3 linked regions of the Homo sapiens genome follow. The protein of the gene in region 1 purifies or fractionates together with the protein of each later gene. This does not show direct contact. Each region holds a gene or a part of one and is shown in the gene's direction. Other genes may lie near its edges.

The links.
Region 2: the proteins of B3GLCT (region 1) and CD82 fractionate together in Homo sapiens (co-fractionation; one large-scale study listed by BioGRID). This does not show direct contact.
Region 3: the proteins of B3GLCT (region 1) and KIF2C fractionate together in Homo sapiens (co-fractionation; one large-scale study listed by BioGRID). This does not show direct contact.

The regions. Positions count from the first base shown.
Region 1 is NC_000013.11:31,198,346-31,202,777, forward strand, and holds the start of B3GLCT (beta-1,3-glucosyltransferase precursor), read left to right. Parts: upstream 1-1,629; 5' UTR 1,630-1,739; coding exon 1,740-1,809; intron 1,810-4,432. UniProt on the Homo sapiens protein: O-glucosyltransferase that transfers glucose toward fucose with a beta-1,3 linkage. Specifically glucosylates O-linked fucosylglycan on TSP type-1 domains of proteins, thereby contributing to elongation of O-fucosylglycan.
Region 2 is NC_000011.10:44,617,552-44,620,897, forward strand, and holds the end of CD82 (CD82 antigen), read left to right. Parts: intron 1-610; coding exon 611-814; intron 815-1,088; coding exon 1,089-1,172; intron 1,173-1,497; coding exon 1,498-1,575; 3' UTR 1,576-2,807; downstream 2,808-3,346. UniProt on the Homo sapiens protein: Structural component of specialized membrane microdomains known as tetraspanin-enriched microdomains (TERMs), which act as platforms for receptor clustering and signaling.
Region 3 is NC_000001.11:44,766,039-44,768,404, forward strand, and holds the end of KIF2C (kinesin-like protein KIF2C), read left to right. Parts: intron 1-787; coding exon 788-911; intron 912-1,058; coding exon 1,059-1,141; 3' UTR 1,142-1,729; downstream 1,730-2,366. UniProt on the Homo sapiens protein: In complex with KIF18B, constitutes the major microtubule plus-end depolymerizing activity in mitotic cells. Regulates the turnover of microtubules at the kinetochore and functions in chromosome segregation during mitosis.

The DNA.
Region 1 (4,432 bases):
ACTACCCCACATATGCAAGGAATATTTTCTTGGAAAAAAGCGAAAACAGCTTTGGAAATTGGAAACAATCTAGAACTACTAGGCAGGTAAGCTTGAGAATTTCCCAAGGATAAAAGCAATGAATTCAGTCAACCATAGATTTGAAATGCTTCACTAAGAAATGAAATGGAAGGATCCCTACATTTCTTTTTCCTCCCATCAAAATGGTATTGACAAGAGACCATAAACCTTGGGCGAATGGAACAAAAGGGAACTATTTGCACTCACACTAAATGGATCACACGTGAAATATTTAGTTCCCAGTTTTAAGAAGTCAATATAAACCACACAGAGAGAAAATTCTTTGTCTCCAGGCCTCCTTTTCAAAACAATCCCAGCAGGTATTGCACAATTGCAGACAATACTGTCCTAATGCATTAGAGCCTAAGTCCCCTAAACGCATTCAAGTTAAGAGGGCTCAAGCCTACAAATGTTTATTCAGCACCTGCTTCTCTGTCTCCAGGACATCCTACTTGTATTCCCAGGGCCATCCTACTTGTACTCCCAGGGCCTCCTCCTCCTTAAATGTTTAGCAAGTAGGTGAATGTTGTATGTCCATGTGAAAGATACTGGCATTCCTAGGGTGCTTAGCAGAGTTGCAGTCACATAGTAGGTATCCAACAAATGAGTAAATATGAAGGAAAACATAGAAACTGCCTTCAAGAGGTCATGGGCTAAACTAGGGCTGGGAAAAGCACTTGGTCCTGTGCACTTCCTTGGAAACAGAAGTGAGCCAAGGCTTGAGGGAGGCACGAAGGAGTTCAGAACCACTGAAGGGAGCCTCTAGTTCTTACTTGTAATGCTTTCCCCTTCAGTGCACCACACAACACAACAGGACCAGTCCCCTATCAGGGCCACCACTCTACCGGGCTGGGGAGGAAAGCCCTTCGCAGTCCTGCGGGAACAGGAGGCACTCCCACATTGCTCCACTTCTCTGTATTCCAGTTTAATTAATTTTTATATTTTGAATAAAATTACACCCACTCTCTTCCATTATGGTGAACACTTAAAATTACATTTATAGAAAATTACATTTACACAAACTTGTTTAAAAGCCAAATCCCAGACCTAGGCTATTGGCCAAATTCCATTTAAAGGGGATATTAAGTAAATTAGTTGAGCTGATTAAAAACACCTTCATCAAAGTAGAGCATTGGTGCCAACAATATTAAGAGTTGAACTATTGATTACATTTTTTTTTCCACAGCAGATAATACATTAGCAGGGAGGAAAAGTGATTACTGCTCGCTTCCACTTCACAGGTAGAACTACTGATGGGGGTGACGCGGTAAGGTGGGAGGGCATGAAGGCAGGGGACGCGGCCTAGGTCAGGAGGGACGCAGAGGAGAAAGGAAGAGGAGGGGTGGAGGCTGGTGGCTGGAGGGGGCAGAGGTCAGACGCCTCGAAGGAGGGCGCCGTGAGGGCAGAGCCGCGGCCACCTCTACCGCAGCAGCCCGTCGGGCCGGACACCAGCCGCAGCCGCCAGCCCGGCAGACGCTGGAAGCGCGCACAGGGGTGCTCCCGCTCCCGGCCGCCAGAGGGCGCGGCCGGCGATGGCGCGGCGGAGACGGAGGGAGGAGGGGAGCCGGCAGAGAAGGGTCAGCCGCGGCGGCAGGGCGGCGGCGGCAGCGGCGCAGCTCCGCTCCCCGCGCGTCTCCCTTCCCCGCGCCCAGGTAGGGCGCTCAGCCTCCGCCGCCAGGATGCGGCCGCCCGCCTGCTGGTGGCTGCTCGCGCCGCCGGCGCTGCTCGCGCTCCTCACCTGCTCCCTGGGTAAGTAGCGGGCGGCCAGGCGCGCAAGGGCGAGGCGTGGGGTTCGCGGGCACAGTCGCCCGTGCCCCGGTCGGCGCGGGGAGGGAGGCGCAGGGCGGCCCAGCCCTGCCCCGCCGGCGCGCGCGTCCCGCCGTCCGGTCCCCGCCGCGCCGCGCCGTCAGCAGCGCCCTCTCGCGGCGCCCAGGTGGGACCCGGGCCCGGGACCCGAGGCGTGCCCGCTCGGCCCCTTTCGGTCTTGGGTCCCCGCTGCCGCCCCGGCCCCAGACTCGCGTCTCCCAGCCTCTGCCGCCCCGAACCGGCGGGCGACGGGGCGGCGAGGGCGCAGCAGCCGCCCCCACAGGAAGCGCGCAGGAACTGTGCCACCGAAGAAACTTTGCAACAGCGCGAGTGGCGGCGGCGGCGGTCCCGCCCCCCTGCCTTCCGCCCGCGCTCCGCCGTCCTGCGCGCCCCGCGCCGGGCGGGAGGCTGGACGGGAGCCGGCGAGGCGGCCCTCGAGGCCCCGCGGCTCCTGTTCGACCCCCGGGGGCGAGGACTGCGGTCCCGGTGTCCGCGCGCCCCTCCGCAGGGCCTTCGGGACGTGCCCTGGCCCCTGAGGATAAGCGGCCAGCTCGGCGCCAGCCCTTCCCGGATTCCGACCCGGAGGAGGACAGGGGCGCCCGCTGGGCCTCCGCGGGAGCTGGCGCGGCGGGGAGGCTTGCTCCTGTCTCGGGTCTCCGCTGGGGACATCAGGGGACACGTCTGCGAGCAGAGCAGTGCTTGCCCGGTCTCCTGCTGCTGTAATGCCCATTCTTTTTTATTTCTTTTCTCCTCGCAAGGGCATTTCCCCCCTTTATCTTAAAACGATGTGATAAAAGTTAAAAAAAAAAAAAAAGCAGCCTTGTAATTGACTTTCATGATCAGATTTGTTCAACTTTGAAAGCTTGAGCGAAAAATTATTTTTTTTTCAGACTGCTACAGAGTTTTTGTCCTCTAACCCAGACTTGCTGGTGTGAAAAGGCAATGATTTCAGATTTTTTAGTAATGGCAGAATGGTGCAGTTTAGGAAAAGACGTAGCGTTATTGCGCACTGCTCTTGTTAGCCCACCGGAACCTTGACAGCCTGTTTTTATTTGTATTTAAGCTCTCTGAATAAGGATTAATTTGCTGCATTTGTGTACTTCTGGCATTTCTATAGGCGCTCAGTAAGTGTGGGAAAAGAGCAAGATTAGTTGGTAATTGTTTACATGCATGATTAATTAGGCAGCAGTGTAATTAAAAATATTAGGGCACCTCCGGCAGAGAAGGCTGTAGTTGGTCTTGGGGAGCGACTGAATTTGGCTGGAATCGGCTTCAGTGGAAGAAGGGCATTGCTGGGTGGCAGCCCTGGGAGAAAGGGAGGTTGGAGGTTTGGGAAAGCGACTGGGTGACTCCTGGCTGCATCAGTTGGCTTGTTGCCTGGATGTTTTGCAACTAACCAAATGGGTGGGTGGTAGCTGAAATTGGTATTCTATTTATAGCACTGCACTTTATAATGCTGTACTGGGGGTATAATATTTGTATATAATATATACAACATATGGGCTGAAATGCACATTTGTATTGCTGTGTCTATTTTTTATTACCCCCAGGGGAATATTTGCACTGTCCAAATTTGATAATACACTGAAGGACATTCAGAATGCACTAAGATGTCAACACATTTTTAGAGATGTCTATTAGCCTTGTGAAGTTGTCAGATAAGCACAATAAATAAGACATAAAATGCATTAAAAGGTCCCTGTGAGACATTTGGCCTTTGGGAACTGGCTTTCATGGGTTGGCACAGACGGGAGGCTGTATTCTTCGAGGTCTGAAGTGAATCATGAATACCTTTTATGGAGCTCTGCTTCGATTTAGGGGAAGGGCACCGACACGTATAAAGATGTCCCCACTTACGATGTTCTTGGAATCTTGCTGAAACAGAATGTGACAGGCGTTCTGTCACATGTGAACAATCTTGATAGTTTATAAATACCTTAAATATTCCCATATAAGATTGGCCTGACTATATAGTTTAGTTTCCCCACAAACTAGAGCATATTTGTTTATATTTTTAGAGAAAAGTCAATATAGAAAATTTCTTTTAAACCCACATGCATATACAGACACGGTTCACTGCAACTTTGGTTCTAAAGTCTGGCACCAGTTTCAGAATGAGAAGATTGAGTCAGGCCTCCAGGTTACCATTTGTTAGCTGTGTGGCTTTTAGTGGCTTTGAGCTTCAGTTTTCTCATATGAACAGGGCGAATGGACTGGATAGAATACTAGCACTTTGCCACCTCTTACAGTTTTAACATACTGATCCCGTTGTAGCAGAGATTGACAGCCACCTGCGAAGTAACCCTTTAGCCCTTGTTTTCCTAACAAAACTAATATAATCTGGGTTGGGGGGAAGGATGGTGGGGTGGTGGTGGCAGCGGTGGCAGCAGCACTGTGAGACATTTCTCAGTGGCCTTTGCATATAGGGGCAGCTAGTGCTCTACAGAGATATCTTTAGAGATTGTTTGGTGGGGCTCCTGGTAAAGCTCATTCAAGGTGGCTGACTCAGCTGGGATGCAGGCCTTTTTGCTCTGTGTTATCCTCCTTCCCATTGCCTATTAAGTGG
Region 2 (3,346 bases), on another chromosome or scaffold:
CTGTCTCAGAAAAAAAAAAAAAAAAAAAAAAGGCGGAATTGACCCCGTCTCCTTTTTCACTTTTCACTTTTTTTCCTTTTCACCAGGAAGCTCAGAGGCAAATCTCAACTCCTGCACTAAAGTTGAACGGCCTTTCCTAAGCTTATTGTGCTCCCCACACCTATGCTTGGTACTTTGCCTGCCTCATCCCATTTAGTCCTTGTGATAGCCCTGTGAGTTGGGGATTTTAATTATCCCCATTTACAGATGAGGAAACTGAGGCTAGTTCCTTGATGGAGGTTGCTCAGCTGGTAGGCGGCAGGGCTGGGATTGTAACCCAGTAGCCTGACTTTAAACCCTGCACTGTGAACTGTCTGCCGTCCATTCTCCTTGTGCCCTGCACACCTGCGCTCCTTCAACTTGAACTTCCTTCCTACTCTGCTTTGTATTTTTGCTGGTCCTGGTTTTGATTTTTCTGCTGTACTTGTAGTTTATGATGGTTCGGCTGGGACCAGGGGCCTGGAAGTGGCATATCTCAGTCTCTGTCCTGGGGAGGTCCTCCCTCTGCCAGGAGGGCAGCCTGCCTAGGGTGAGCCGTGAGCACAAGCAGTCTGTCCCCTGCCTTGCCCAGGTGAAGTGCTGCGGCTGGGTCAGCTTCTACAACTGGACAGACAACGCTGAGCTCATGAATCGCCCTGAGGTCACCTACCCCTGTTCCTGCGAAGTCAAGGGGGAAGAGGACAACAGCCTTTCTGTGAGGAAGGGCTTCTGCGAGGCCCCCGGCAACAGGACCCAGAGTGGCAACCACCCTGAGGACTGGCCTGTGTACCAGGAGGTGTGCGGGGGGCTGCGGATCGGGGGCGGGGCTCCGAGGGCGTTGGGGGCCATCTGGGCTACTGCTCAGCAATTCCTTCCTGCATTTAGTTCCTTCCCTTAATTCATCTGTCATTTGTACCTTCATCTACTTCTTTGTTAATGTATTTATTCAAGGAACAGGCAGAGCCCTCTGTAGGGGCTTCCGGGCTGGGACTGGGGGGCTCTCGGTGGTTCTGCATGGCGGGGTGGGATGGTGCAGAGCGGGGTGATGTGACCGCATTCTGCCCTTGCAGGGCTGCATGGAGAAGGTGCAGGCGTGGCTGCAGGAGAACCTGGGCATCATCCTCGGCGTGGGCGTGGGTGTGGCCATCATCGAGGTCTGAGCCCCCTCCCCCATCCCTTCTCCATCCCAGGTCCTCCTGGGTTGTCTCTGTTCTGCTGATCTCCTTGGGGAGGTGGTGGCCAAGGGGGCCAGCACCCCATCAGCTTCCAGAGGCCCTCTGGTCTGAGCACTGTCTGGCTGTGTGACCTCAGACAAGGCACTGCCCCGCTCTGGGCCTCCCTCTGCTGCCTGCATCACAGGGTGGTTGTGAGGCTCAAGTTGAGGATCCACTTAATCCCCATGTAAACCTGGATGGTGAGGCTGGGGCGTCTGAGGCCGGGACACCCAGCCTCCCTCTGACTCTCCGCCTCTCCCCACAGCTCCTGGGGATGGTCCTGTCCATCTGCTTGTGCCGGCACGTCCATTCCGAAGACTACAGCAAGGTCCCCAAGTACTGAGGCAGCTGCTATCCCCATCTCCCTGCCTGGCCCCCAACCTCAGGGCTCCCAGGGGTCTCCCTGGCTCCCTCCTCCAGGCCTGCCTCCCACTTCACTGCGAAGACCCTCTTGCCCATCCTGACTGAAAGTAGGGGGCTTTCTGGGGCCTAGCGATCTCTCCTGGCCTATCCGCTGCCAGCCTTGAGCCCTGGCTGTTCTGTGGTTCCTCTGCTCACCGCCCATCAGGGTTCTCTTAGCAACTCAGAGAAAAATGCTCCCCACAGCGTCCCTGGCGCAGGTGGGCTGGACTTCTACCTGCCCTCAAGGGTGTGTATATTGTATAGGGGCAACTGTATGAAAAATTGGGGAGGAGGGGGCCGGGCGCGGTGGCTCACGCCTGTAATCCCAGCACTTTGGGAGGCCGAGGCGGGTGGATCACGAGGTCAGGAGATCGAGACCATCCTGGCTAACATGGTGAAACCCCGTCTCTACTAAAAATACAAAAAAAATTTAGCCGGGCGCGGTGGCGGGCACCTGTAGTCCCAGCTACTTGGGAGGCTGAGGCAGGAGAATGGTGTGAACCCGGGAGCGGAGGTTGCAGTGAGCTGAGATCGTGCTACTGCACTCCAGCCTGGGGGACAGAAAGAGACTCCGTCTCAAAAAAAAAAAAAAAAAAAAAAAAAATTGGGGAGGGAAGGGCGTTAGATAAGGCACTCTGGGCTGTCAGGAGACTGCCTACTGGGTGGGTCAACTTATTTCCCACTATGACATTTATATCTTTATTTTTCACAATTATATTGAAGGCAGTGGGAGAGGGGAGAGGGTGGGTTTTACCTGATATTAAGGGGTGGCACCCCTTCCCCAGGCCTGATGCAGGTCCATCTAGACAGCTCAGATTAGCCTAGGCCATGCCCTAGGGACACGGCCTAGGGGAGCTGGGCTGGAGGGGGTCTGCCTGGGTAAGGGGATCTGGCTTGGCCCTGAGCTGCTTAGGGACAGGTGAGTCCTTGGGGGCATGGCACAGAGCTGGTCCTGTATTCTCCAGGGTCCGGAGCTGGCCAGGGGCGGGGAGGAGGAGGATGGCTTCTCCTGGGAGAAGGTGGGCTGGCCTTTCTTGGCAAGCGGTCCTCTGGCCCCTGGGGAGTGGGGTGGGTGAGGCTGTGCCTTGTAGGGGGAGAGGGGAGGGGGCTTTGTGTGCACCATTCTGTAAAACACACTCAAGATTCTAAGACTATTAAAGAGGATTTATAACAGTCTAGTCTGGAATGGTAGGGATGCTGCTTCCTGGGGCAGGGGAGGACCCAGGGCAGAGGGTGTGAGCAGAGTGGCTGGGTCTGCTGGAGACTGCTGGACCCCTCACTGCTCTGCCCTCCCCGCAGGCATCTGCTTCTGCAGCCTGAACCTTAGGACCGTGATGGGCCAGGCTCTGATGGGCCTGCCTGCATGCCGGGGTGCCTGGAGTTTGATTTGGTGCTAAGAGAGGTATAGATTGTACCTCTCAATTCCTGCTTCTGAAACTAGGGTATGGGTGCCCCCAGAAGCTGCACAAAAGTGGGCTGGTGATGGGGGACAGGGAAGCCACAGGATAAACTTGGCATCGCTTTCTAGAGCATCCGTTTCTGCAAAGATTTGTGGAAGGAAACATTTTCATACTAAAGAAATGTGATGGAGTAAGATGTGCAGAATTCAGGGGACTTTTTAAGATGAAATGTGAGACTTTGGGAGGCTGAGGCAGGTGGATCACTTGAGGTCAGGAGTTCGAGTCCAACCTGGCCAACATGGTGAAACCCCA
Region 3 (2,366 bases), on another chromosome or scaffold:
AGACTCCGTCTTAAAGAAAAAATAAATAAATAAATAAATTAGCTGGCTATGGTGGTGTGTGCCTGTAGTCCCAGCTACTCGGGAGGCTGAGACAGGAGAATCACTTAAACCTGGGAGGCGGAGGTTGCAGTGAGCCAGGATCGCACACCACTTCACTCCAGCCTGGGTGACAGAGTGAGACTCCATCTCAAAAAACAATAAAAATAAAATCACTCAAATTTCTAGCTTGGGCATCAGGACCAATGATGTTATTCATTTGACATAAGAGATGGGGATAAGCTTGGGATAGGAGGCCGGAAGTGGTGGCTCAAGCCTGTAATCCCAGCACTTTGAGAGGCCGAGGCCTGCGGATCACCTGAGGTCGAGAGTTCGAGATCAGCCTGGCCAACATGGAGAAACCCCGTCTCTACTAAAAATACAAAATTAGCTGGGCGTGGTAGCACTTGCCTGTAATCCCAGCTACTTGGGAGGCTGAAGCAGGAGAATCCCTTAAACTCGGGGGGTGGAGGCTATGGTGAGCCGAGATCACGCCATTGCACTCCAGCCTGGGCAACAAGAGTGAAACTGTCTCAAAAAAGAAACAAAGAAAACGAAAAAAACAAGCTTGGGGTAGGAAGAGGGTGAATTCAAGCTAAGGATTTCCTTGGGGAGAGGGTGAACAGCCAGGGTATGGGTCAGGGACCAGAGGTAAAGCATCTTACTCAGGTGTCTGCATTGCAGTTGGTAGGACCCCAGGAATGATTTGCTAAATGGTTATTGAACTGACAAGGTCCTCCCTGTGTTGTAGCAAGGACCAGACTGGCTTGAGCTCTCTGAGATGACCGAGCAGCCAGACTATGACCTGGAGACCTTTGTGAACAAAGCGGAATCTGCTCTGGCCCAGCAAGCCAAGCATTTCTCAGCCCTGCGAGGTGGGTGTGGCTGGATGGGGTGCAGGTGGACGATGGTGGCCTCTGCTGGCTCTTGGGCAGCTGCAGGTGATGGCAGCTCTGCCCTGAGTGAATGGGGGCTCCTCAGACTCTCACTAACCCCATATGTACCGCTACCCTTTCTTCCAGATGTCATCAAGGCCTTGCGCCTGGCCATGCAGCTGGAAGAGCAGGCTAGCAGACAAATAAGCAGCAAGAAACGGCCCCAGTGACGACTGCAAATAAAAATCTGTTTGGTTTGACACCCAGCCTCTTCCCTGGCCCTCCCCAGAGAACTTTGGGTACCTGGTGGGTCTAGGCAGGGTCTGAGCTGGGACAGGTTCTGGTAAATGCCAAGTATGGGGGCATCTGGGCCCAGGGCAGCTGGGGAGGGGGTCAGAGTGACATGGGACACTCCTTTTCTGTTCCTCAGTTGTCGCCCTCACGAGAGGAAGGAGCTCTTAGTTACCCTTTTGTGTTGCCCTTCTTTCCATCAAGGGGAATGTTCTCAGCATAGAGCTTTCTCCGCAGCATCCTGCCTGCGTGGACTGGCTGCTAATGGAGAGCTCCCTGGGGTTGTCCTGGCTCTGGGGAGAGAGACGGAGCCTTTAGTACAGCTATCTGCTGGCTCTAAACCTTCTACGCCTTTGGGCCGAGCACTGAATGTCTTGTACTTTAAAAAAATGTTTCTGAGACCTCTTTCTACTTTACTGTCTCCCTAGAGATCCTAGAGGATCCCTACTGTTTTCTGTTTTATGTGTTTATACATTGTATGTAACAATAAAGAGAAAAAATAAATCAGCTGTTTAAGTGTGTGGAAAGGGCCTGGGATGTGTCTGAGCCTTTTGGGACTAAGGACATGACTGTACCTTTGGCCTCTGGGTAGTACTGATTCTGTACTCCTTCCAGGAGGCCATATCCACACCTACAATTCCAATGACAAGCTGAAGACTCCTGTGACTTGTTTGATGTCTATGAGATGCTTACTAGGCCTGGGAACAGAAACTCTTAAGTAGAAGGAAGATGGCCGCCGGGCACGGTGGCCCACGCCTATAATCCCAGCACTTTGGAAGGCCAAGGCGGGCAGATCGCAAGGTCAGGAATTCAAGACCAGCCTGGCCAACATGGTGAAACCCCATCTCTACTAAAAATACAAAAATTAGCTGGGCATGGTACATGGTGGCACGCACCTATAGTTCTAGCTACTCAGGAGGCTGAGGCAGGAGAATTGCTTGAACCCGGGAGGCGGAGGCGGCAGTGAGCCGAGACTGTGCCACAGCACTCCAGCCTGGGAGACAGAGTAAGGCTGTCTCAAAAAAAAAGGCCAGGTGTAGTGGCTAACACCTGTAATCCCAGCACTTTGGGAGGCCGAGGCAGGTGGATCACCTGAGGTCAGGAATTGGAGACCAACATGGTGAAACCCCGTCTCTACTAAAAATCCAAAAAATTAGCCGGCCG